Linked DNA regions of Homo sapiens. The protein of the gene in region 2 purifies or fractionates together with the protein of the main gene of each other region. This does not show direct contact. Each region holds a gene or a part of one and is shown on either strand. Other genes may lie near its edges.

Evidence for each region.
Region 1: the proteins of RFPL2 (region 2) and PASK purify together in Homo sapiens (affinity purification with mass spectrometry, with the first as the bait; one large-scale study listed by BioGRID). This does not show direct contact.

The regions. Positions count from the first base shown.
Region 1 is NC_000002.12:241,125,431-241,129,634, reverse strand, and holds part of PASK (PAS domain-containing serine/threonine-protein kinase), read left to right. Parts: intron 1-2,183; coding exon 2,184-3,439; intron 3,440-4,204. UniProt on the Homo sapiens protein: Serine/threonine-protein kinase involved in energy homeostasis and protein translation. Phosphorylates EEF1A1, GYS1, PDX1 and RPS6.
Region 2 is NC_000022.11:32,201,358-32,207,530, forward strand, and holds the start of RFPL2 (ret finger protein-like 2), read right to left. Parts: upstream 3,717-6,173; 5' UTR 3,350-3,716; exon of another isoform or gene 2,946-3,349; intron 2,121-2,945; exon of another isoform or gene 1,284-2,120; intron 1,194-1,283; 5' UTR 1,095-1,193; coding exon 976-1,094; intron 1-975.

The sequences.
Region 1 (4,204 bases), on a different chromosome or scaffold from region 2:
ATCTCTTAGCCAAAATTATGAAATCCAAAAAGCCCCCAACACTGAAATATTTTTCTTAGAATTGATGCTAAAAGCATTGGACGGTCAAATTGGCCCTAAGCACGTGAGAAGCTGTTTGTGGTTTTCCCTTGACCTCTGCAGTTTGAGTGTTCAGAGGCCTTGCTGCAGACACAGGGCAGTGGATGCCCGTGAAGCCCTCTCCCCAGCCTGCTGGGGTCTCCCTAGCAAGTGGTCATATGACTTTTCTGAAATCCCCAAACACATCTGGCCCAAGGGTTTTGATGGAAGGGCCGTGGACCCAGGTGACTGTGGAGAGAACGGGTACTGAGGCTGCAGCAGCCCGCTAAGGCCCCAAGAGCATGGGTGAAGATGCAGTGCTGCCCAGGGGCCTCAGCTTTGTGTCTGGACTGTGCCCCAGAAGTTGCCCAGACTCTTTGGCAAGGGGCTTTGTGAGACCCTCGTGGTGTGCATTCGCCTCCTGTCTTACCTGATCCTGCAGGAGGATGTGCAGTTTCCTAGCATTTGCATGGGGTTTGTCTCAAGCATGGGATGGATGGAGAGCGGGAGAGGGAGGTACAGGGGAGAGAGAGATGGGAGACATGGAGGGAGAGAGGCGGGAGACATGGAGGGAGAGAGGCAGGCAGACGCAGACCCTCAGCCTCCCCCTCAGTTCCCCTCAGAAAACTGCTTTTCCTCAGAACTTGGCTCACAATCCCTTTCTCTGTGGAACCCACCCTTGGGTTGTATCCTTCCTCTTCCGTCTTTTTTTTTTTGAGATGGTCTTGGCCATTGCCCAGGCTGGAGTGCAGTGGTGCGATCACAGCTCACTGCAGCCTAGACTCCTGTGCTCAAGCGAGGTTCCCGCTTCAGCCTCCCAAGTAGCTGAGACTACAGGTGTGTGTCACCACGCTGGCTAATTTTTAAATGTTTTGTAGAGACGAGGTCTCACTATGTTGCCCAGGCTGGTCTCGAACTCCTGGGCTCAGCCTCCCACAGTGCTGGGATTACAGGTGTGGGCCACTGTGCCCGATCCTGTCCTCTTTCTGAGCCTCTGGTATACCTTTATTAGGTTGCTGATGTTAACCTGTGTGTCTGTCCCCGAGTGAGGTGGTGCGGTCACATTCTGTGCATCTGGTGCCCAGTGTCAGTCTGTCATGTGGAGGCCAGTGGCTGGGCTGACAGGAGGCCTGGGTCCCTTGGCTCTGTGATCATCCTGTCTGGACTGTGGCAGCCTCCTCATGGGTCACCATGTGCTGAATGCTGGAGGACATTGTGTGCCACCTCTTAGGAGCCGCCCTCACCAGCCTCCTCTCTCTTTTTCGGCCCGTGTCCCCTTCTTTTTTTGTTTGTGTTTGAGACGGAGTCTCACTCTGTCACCCATCTCACCAGTGAGCTGGTACAATCTCAGCTCACTGCAACCTCTGCCTCCCAGGCTCAAACCATTCTCCTGCCTCAGCCTCCAAGTAGCTGGGATTATAGGTGCCTGCCACCTCACCGGGCTAATTTTTGTATTTTTAGTAGAGACAGGACTTTGCCATGTTGGCCAGTCTGGTCTCGAACCTCCTGACCTCAAGTGATCTGCCCACCTCGGCCTCCCAAAGTGCTGGGATTACAGGCGTGAGCCACCACGCCCGGCCCCCTGGCCCCTGGCCCCTTCTGTGTGGGCCCCATCTGAGAGCCATTTCCCAAATCTGAGAGCCATTTCCCTAGTCGGCTGTGAAATCGGATGGTGTTTGTAGTCAATCAGTTGTTTTTTTACTGTTGTGGAGTTTACCAGGGACTCTCCAATCTCTCTCTCGTTTCCTCTCACACCTCCTCAAGGCAGCAGCACGGACTTCCCCTTGCAGGTGGGGCCGAGGCTAGGCTGCACGGCTGACGGGGGGTTTGGGGGCCCTGAGATGAAGCGAGAGCGCTGACCAAAGCATTGGCAAGTTCTCCTGTACTTTACTGTTGGGCTTTTGGTAGCATTCTCTGCAAAATCATTTCTAAATGTGGACTTAATTTGGAGAAATTTGAGACTAAGTGCTTTATTTTTTAACTTGGTCACAAAATTTGGTCTTTTTCTTGTTATAAATTGGTGGCATTAAATGCTTTGTACTTAGTTCTAATGGAGAATCGGTGCAATCTCTCCTTTTGACTCATCTGTGGCCCTACATGATGGTCACCCATGTCATTATCCCCAGGGTGGACAATGTCCCAGAAGGAAGCCTGCCAGTGCACGGTGAACAGGCGCTGCCCAAGGACCAGCAAATCACTGCCTTGGGGAGAGAGGAACCTGTGGCAATAGAGAGCCCCGGACAGGATCTTCTGGGAGAAAGCAGGTCTGAACCAGTGGATGTGAAGCCATTTGCTTCCTGCGAAGATTCTGAAGCTCCAGTCCCAGCTGAGGATGGGGGCAGTGATGCTGGCATGTGTGGCCTGTGTCAGAAGGCCCAGCTAGAGCGGATGGGAGTCAGTGGTCCCAGCGGTTCAGACCTTTGGGCTGGGGCTGCCGTGGCCAAGCCCCAGGCCAAGGGTCAGCTGGCGGGGGGCAGCCTCCTGATGCACTGCCCTTGCTATGGGAGTGAATGGGGCTTGTGGTGGCGAAGCCAGGACTTGGCCCCCAGCCCCTCTGGGATGGCAGGCCTCTCGTTTGGGACACCTACTCTAGATGAGCCGTGGCTGGGAGTGGAAAACGACCGAGAAGAGCTGCAGACCTGCTTGATTAAGGAGCAGCTGTCCCAGTTGAGCCTTGCAGGAGCCCTGGATGTCCCCCACGCCGAACTCGTTCCGACAGAGTGCCAGGCTGTCACCGCTCCTGTGTCGTCCTGCGATCTGGGAGGCAGAGACCTGTGCGGTGGCTGCACGGGCAGCTCCTCAGCCTGCTATGCCTTGGCCACGGACCTCCCTGGGGGCCTGGAAGCAGTGGAGGCCCAGGAGGTTGATGTGAATTCGTTTTCCTGGAACCTCAAGGAACTCTTTTTCAGTGACCAGACAGACCAAACGTCATCAAATTGTTCCTGTGCTACGTCTGAACTCAGAGAGACACCCTCTTCCTTGGCAGTGGGCTCCGATCCAGATGTAGGCAGTCTCCAGGAACAGGGGTCGTGTGTCCTGGATGACAGGGAGCTGTTACTACTGACCGGCACCTGTGTTGACCTTGGCCAAGGCCGACGGTTCCGGGAGAGCTGTGTGGGACATGATCCAACAGAACCGCTTGAGGTTTGTTTGGTGTCCTCTGAGCATTATGCAGCAAGCGACAGAGAAAGCCCAGGACACGTTCCTTCCACGTTGGATGCTGGCCCTGAGGACACGTGCCCATCAGCAGAGGAGCCAAGGCTGAACGTCCAGGTCACCTCCACGCCCGTGATCGTGATGCGCGGGGCTGCTGGCCTGCAGCGGGAGATCCAGGAGGGTGCCTACTCCGGGAGCTGCTACCATCGAGATGGCTTACGGCTGAGTATGTCCCGGGCCCCATAGGAAGAAGTGTGGTGCTCCCAGAGCACAGTGCAGTGGGGGTGCAGGGCCTTCCTTGTTCTGGGGTCTGATGGGGTTTCACCCTGGAATAGTGTTAGCAGAAATCATGTTTTCAAGGAGAATGCATATCATCCACCCCTAGAAAATTAAGATTACGAATGTGTGTGCCTGGGGAGGGTGGCGCCCAAGGTCCCAGGCCACCTGCCCCATGCCCGTCAGTTCCAGCTGTGCCCCCTGACTCAGGCCATACACTTAGAGAGCCGCTCCTCCCAGCAGCCTGGGGAGATCCCGTCGGGAGCAGGAGAAGCGTGGGGGTGTCACGCTAGAGTCTGTCTCTCCACCTCCCACCAGCCCCCACCTCAGTGGTCACACAGACAGGCCGAGAGGGATGTGAGCGTGGTGAGATGCTCACGTGTTCTTCTTCCGTGCTTTTGGTGTTTAGGCTGCCCTGATCTCTGAAAAACCTGCCCTTCTGTGAGGGTCATGTGATCGGGCCCCTCTGCTTGCCCCTTTGAGATTGATTCTGTTTTACTTTCTTTTTTATTTTCATTTCTTTTTTTTTTTTTTTTCTTTTTTTTTGAGACAGAGTCTCTCTCTGTTGCCCAGGCTGGAGTGCAGTAGCGCGATCTCAGCTTACTGCAAGCTCCGCCTCCCGGGTTCATGCCATTCTCCTGCCTCAGCCTCCCTAGTAGCTGGGACTACAGGCACCCACCAGCACGCCCGGCTAATTTTTTCTATTTTTAGTAGA
Region 2 (6,173 bases):
AGAATATGCAAAGCATTTGGTCAAGGAGAGTTGGTTTTCTCAATGTTGAAGCCAGGCATGTTTTCACAACTAAAAGCGAGGACCCGTCTTAACCAAGGCCTCAATATTGATGGGATTTGGTCTCTGACACATGCACAGGTGACCTGTGTCTGTAAGTGCACCTACAGCTGCCTGGCAGCTCTAGGACATGGCGATTCTCTCAGGTACTTGGCACAGAAAGTCACTGGCCTTCTTTGGAGGACGCATCATTTATAGAAACACTTCTTTATTGGATCCTGGGTCTCGGGTGGAAAACCAGGTCCCACATCAGGACTTTCTCTGTGAGGCTCCCAGGTTCTGGGGCTCCAGCTGCTCTCTGAGAGGAAGGTGTGGAGACAGAGAACATAGCCCAGCCCCACCCAGCCCCTCTTGCATTGTCCCTGCTCTGTAGGGAGTTAGAAAACTGGGGGCATCAGCAGCAGCAGGCCTGTGTCACTGTGGGTGGGGCCAGGGAGGGGCCGAGGGGCATCCTGGGTGAGTCTCTCCCACGGCTCCTGTTTGACTTGCCCATGGCCACTGTCACAAATGACCCCTAATTTAGTGGCTTAAAATAACACACATTTATTCTCTCCCAGGTATGGAAGTCAGAAGTCCAAAATGAGGCCTGAGCTGCTAAGATCAGGGTGCCAGCAGGGCCGGGCTCCTTCCGGGGGCTCTGAGACAAATCCATTTCCAGAACTTTTCCAGCTTCTAGAGGACGCCCCCAGCTCCTGGCCCTTTCTTCTAACTACAAAGCCAGAGCTCAGCATCTTCAGATCTCTCTCCTGATCTTCTCTCCCCCCACTTTCTGTCTTCCTCTCCCTGGACTCCCCTCTCCTTCTCTCTCCCTCCATCCCCACATCTCCTCCTCTCACTGTGACCCTCCTCCTGCCTTCCTCTTTCCCTTATAAAGACTCCACCCTGGAGCAATGCGGAAAACCCAGAATTGTCTCTCACCTCAGGCTCCTTATCACCATCATGTCTGCAAAGTCCCAGTGGCCACACAATACAGCACATAGACAGATCCTGGATTGGGACACTGCAGTCTCTGGGAAGCCTAATTCAGCCACCTCCATCGGAGGCAAATCATGGTGCCACAGGCTCTAGCCTCCAGCCCGTGGCATGTAGCTCCTTCTCAGGGCACTGGGCATCCGGGCAGACAAAGCCAGAAAAGCCTAGAACAGGATGCAGAGTGGTAACATTAGAGCGCACCTTGTCATGCTGGCCACTGGGTGGCAGGGGCCGGTTTCAGCGAAGGTACTCACACCCACACTTCAAAGTCCAGCCTCTCCTTTTAGCGCAAGCTGGCCAGGAACTGCGGCCTGGAGTGGGGACTGCAGACACCACAGTGCCCGGGCTTCCCACTCCACAGGAACAGCTGCAGCCACCCTGGCTGCACTCCTCGGGAAGCAGGAGCAGCAGAAACTCAACCCCAGCCAGCCCTCCCCACCCAAGTGCCGGTTCCCGTTCCTGATGCCTCCTCCACCCACAGGGCCCTGTAGCCTCCTCGTGTCCACTACTGCGTGCCCCGGGGTCCCAGGCGGTCTCTGCAACACAGAGCAATAGGAGGCGGGTCCAGGAAGCACCACGGGGCTGGGGCCCCTGCCGCGCTCAGGAAATGCTGTGCGCCCGCCGCACTTGAGCAAGAACAGGAGGAGGTGGCCGGGAAGAGGAGGACCGCTCCTCTCTTGCAGACCACCGCTGTCACTGACACCTCCACCGCCCGCCACCGGCAGTGCAGTCCCAGATGGCGCCCCTAACTCATCCGTGCCTAGTACATGCAGCACCCAATGGCGCTGGCAGCCTGCCCCCTGCCACGGGCAGCGCAGCCCGGGATAACTCCCCAAACCCGCTCTGTGCTGTGGGCAGTGCAGCCACGGATACCACCCTCAACCAGCCCCTCGCCACAGGAAATGACTCCCGGGATAGCGCCCCAAATCAGCCCCCAGCCTCGGGCAGTGACGCCTGGAGTAGGTCACCCAACCCAACTCCTGCGCGGGCAGTGCAGCACCAGATAGCGCCCCTAAAACGCCTCCCGCCACCGGCGGTGTAGCCCAGGATAGCGCCGCCAACCCGGTACTCGCCGCGGCAGTGTAGCGATAGGGCACCCAATCTGCCACCCACCGCCGGCAGTGCAACCCCAGATAGCGCACCGAACTCACTCCCTGCTGGGCAGTGCAACCCCACATAGCATCCAACCCGCCTCCCCACCCAGCCACTGGCAGTCCGCCCCCGATAATGTCCCATACACGCTCCTGGCTGTGGGCAGTGCAGCCCATGGGTAGCGCCCCCAACCAGCCCCCAGCCATGGGGAGTGATGCCTCGGATAACACACCCAACAAGTTCCCCACCATGGCACTGATGTCCCAGGTAGCGCCCCCAATCCTTGCCCCTCAGCGACCAGTGCAGCCATGGATAGCGCCCTCAACAAGCCCCTCCACTGACCCCCGCCGCTGTGGGAAATGACGCCCGGGATAACGCACCCAACCCTCCCCCGCCATGAGCAATGCAACACGCACTACTGCTCCTTACACGCCCCCCACTACATGCGGTGTAGCCAACGATGGCGCCCCCATCTCCCCCTCGCCTCGGGCAGTGTAGCTCCCGATAGTGCATCCAACCCATTCCCTCTGCCCCTCTCCTCCCACCGAGTCAACCACCGCCGGCAGTCCAACCCCAAATAGCGCACCCAATCCACTCCCTGCCAGGCAGTGAAGCCCCCCGATAGCACCCAACCCGCACCCCCACCCCCGCCACTGGCAGTCCGCCCCGATAACGCCCCAACACGCTCCTGGCTGTAGGCAGTGTAGCCCATAGATAGAGCCCCCAACCAGCCCCCAGCCAAGGGCAGTGACGCCTCGGATATCACAGCCAACAAGTTCCCTGCCATGCGCACTGATGTCCCAGATAGCGCCCCCAACCCGTACCCCAGCGCGACCAGTGCAGCCACGGATAGCGCCCCCAGCAAGCCACCCCGCGGCTGCGGGAAATGACGTCCGGTAAAGCACCCAACCTTCCCGTGCTGTAGGCAGTGCAGCACCCAATACTGCCCCTAACACGCCTCCCACCACCGGGTTGTAGCCCACGATGGCGCCCTCAATCCGCCCCCGCTCCCACCTCGGGCAGTGCAGCTCCAGATCGTGCATCCAACCTGTCCCCCTCCCCGCCCCCTGCCGCAGGCAGTGAGCCCTGGATAGCTCATCCACCCCGCCACCTTTCTACATTCTGGCTGCGGTCTAGTCTCCCTCACCGCCACCAACGGCAGCGAGCCGAGCCATGCTGCTGCAGGCTTTCAAGCCTCCAGCGTGGGACAGGTGACTCCTCCTCTAACCTGGGCATGGAGCAGATGGGCTGGCAGACGCAGAAGTGCCTGGAATGGCAAGAACCCCTCCCCCCACAGACCGAGGTTATGCAAGTAAGGTTTCTGGACTACATGTTCAGATTGGATGAGAGAAAAACCTCTAGGTCTACTCTGATTGTGCTTTATTTTCACGTTCTGACTGGATGACAGCAAGTCTTAGGATAACCAATCAGAACAAGATAACAAAGCCCGATCAGAGTAGGCCTAGAGGTTTCTCTCATCCGATCAGACTATGTAGTCGAGAAACTTCATTTGCATTAAACTCAGTATATAAAGGATGCCAAGAGGGGTGGCTTGCCCTTCCAGGCTCATCTGCGTCGGCCTGCGTAGCTGCTCTGTGCCCGGCTTAGAGGAGAAGGAGGAGGAGCCACTTGCCGCGCATGCCAGAGGCTAGAGTCATCTACCGCGCATGCTGGAGGCTGGAGCCTACAGTGGCTCACCTCGCTGCTGCGGTTGGTGGCCGCGAGGGTGACTACAGCGCAGCCAGAATGGTGAAAAGGTGGCAGAATAGGTTCGTTATCCCAGGCCGTACTGCCTGTGGCGTGGGGGGCGGGTTGGGGGCCCTATCCAGGGCGTCACTGCCCGTGTTGGGGGGCTGCTTGAGTGTGGTACCTCGGGCGTCACTGCCCGCTGAGGGGAGTGGGGTGGGGGCGCTATCCGGGGGCGCTATCCAGCCTATGGCTGGAGATGGGTTGGGGCGCTATCCGAAGCTGTAATTCCTGCGGCAGTGGGGAGTTTTGGGGGCACTATCTGGGGATGCACTGCCCGCGGCCGGGGGGCGGGGGTGAGTTAGTAGAACTATCAGGTGCTGCAATGCCCTGATGCCCTTGTTGGGGACAGGTTGTGGGGGGCTGGTGGGTGCAACACTGCTGGTGGCGAGGGTGGGTGCTGCTATCCGGTGCTACTCTGCCTGTGGGGGACGGGGGCGGGCGTGATATCCAGGGCATCATTGCCTGCATCTGGGAGCTGGTTGGGGACACTATCCATGGCTGCACTGCCCACAGTGGGGAGCGGGTTGGGGGCACTATTTGGGGCTGCAATGCTGGTGGTGGGGGACGGGTTAGGGTCACTATAGGGTGCTACACTGCTGGCAGTGGGGAGGGGGTTGTTGAGGGCGCTCTCTGGGGGCTACACTGAGACAGGTAGCGGGGGGTTGTTGGGATTGGTACCGGGGCTGGACTGCCCATGGAGAGGGGGTGGGGGCGTTGGTTGGGGGCGCTATTGAGGGCCGGGTACACTGCCTGCGGTGGAGGGGTGGGTTGGGTGCTATCAGGGGTCTGTACTGCCTAGCAGGGAGCGGGTGGGTGTGCTATCTGGGGCTGCACTGGCTGCAGCAGGGGCAGGTTGGGTGCACTATAGGGGGCTACACTGCCCTTGGCAGGGGGTGGTTTAGGTGAGCTGTCTGTGGCCGCACTGCCCGAGGTGGGGAGTAAGTTTGGGTGCTATCTGTGGCTGCACTGCCTGGAGGCAGGAAGTGGGTTGAGGGTGCTATCCTGGGCTGCTTCTCCTGGTGGGGAGCAGGTAGGGGCACTATCCAGGGTTGCACTGCCCGGGGTAGGGGGCGATTTGGGTGCCATATCGGGGCATCACTGCCCACGGCAGGGGTCTGGTTGGGGTCGCTACCCATGGCTACACTGTCTACAGCCACTGCCTACGGCAGGGAGCGGGTTGGGGGCGCTATCCCGGGCTGCGCTGCCCAAGGCAGGGGGTGGGTTGCGGGTGCCATTGGTGCTGCAGTGTCCGAGGCAGGGGCGGGTTGGGGTTGCCATCTGGTGCTACACTGCCAGCTGTGGGGGAGGGTCGGGGGCGCTATCGGGGGCTGCACCGTCCCCCTGGTGGTGGGCAGCGGAGGTGTCAGTGACAGCGGTGGTCAGAGGAGGTGAGAGGGACTCCAGTCTCTAGAGGGCCATCTCCTTCTGCTCCTGGCCAGCACACAGCATTTCTGCGGGGATCCTGAGCACGGCCCGGCCCCTAGACCTGCTGTGGTTCCCAGGCGCGCGCCCTCTCACCATGTGTTGCTGAGACCGTCTGGGACCCCTGGGCACACAGTAGCGGACATCATGGAGTGACAGGGCCCTGTGGGTGGAGGTGTCAGGAAGAGGTACCGGCACTTGGGTGGGGAGGGCTGGCTGGGGTTGAGTTTCTGCTGCTTCTGCTTCCTGAGGAGCGCAGCCAGGGGTGGGCCCAGCGATTCGTGCCGAGTGGGAAGCCCGGACGCTGTACTGTGGTGTCTCCAGTCCCCACCCCAGGCCCCAGTTCCTGGTGAACTTGGGCCAAAAAGGGAGGCTGGGCTTTGGAGGGTAGGTGTGAGTGCCTTTGCTAAAACTGGCCCCTGCCACCTAGTGGCCAGCATGACAAGGTGAGACTCTAATGCTACCACTCTCTGCATCCTGTTCTAGGCTTATCTGACTTTGCCTGCCCAGTTGCTCCGTGCCAGGAGGAGGAGCCACTTATTCCATGCTGGAGGCTGGAGCTGGGGGCACCGCAGCTCACCTTGCTGTGGTTGGTGGTGGCGATGGAGACTACAGAGCACCAGAGCGGTAGGAGAGCAGCAATGGAGACTGCAGAGTGCCAGAGCAGTAGGAGGGCGGCTGGCTGCTGCCTGGGCAAGGGCAGGCCTGCTGTGGTATCCAGGTGGTAGGAGCCTTGTAGGGTGGACCAGTGGACTGAGGGCAACAGGAACAGTGGTTGTATTGGCATCAGTGCTAGTGGTGGCAGCAGCAGCAAGTCTGGAGGTTGGGAAGGCGGGTAGGAGCGCTCCAGGGCTGACCCGCCCGGCTGGGCCTGGCCTGGG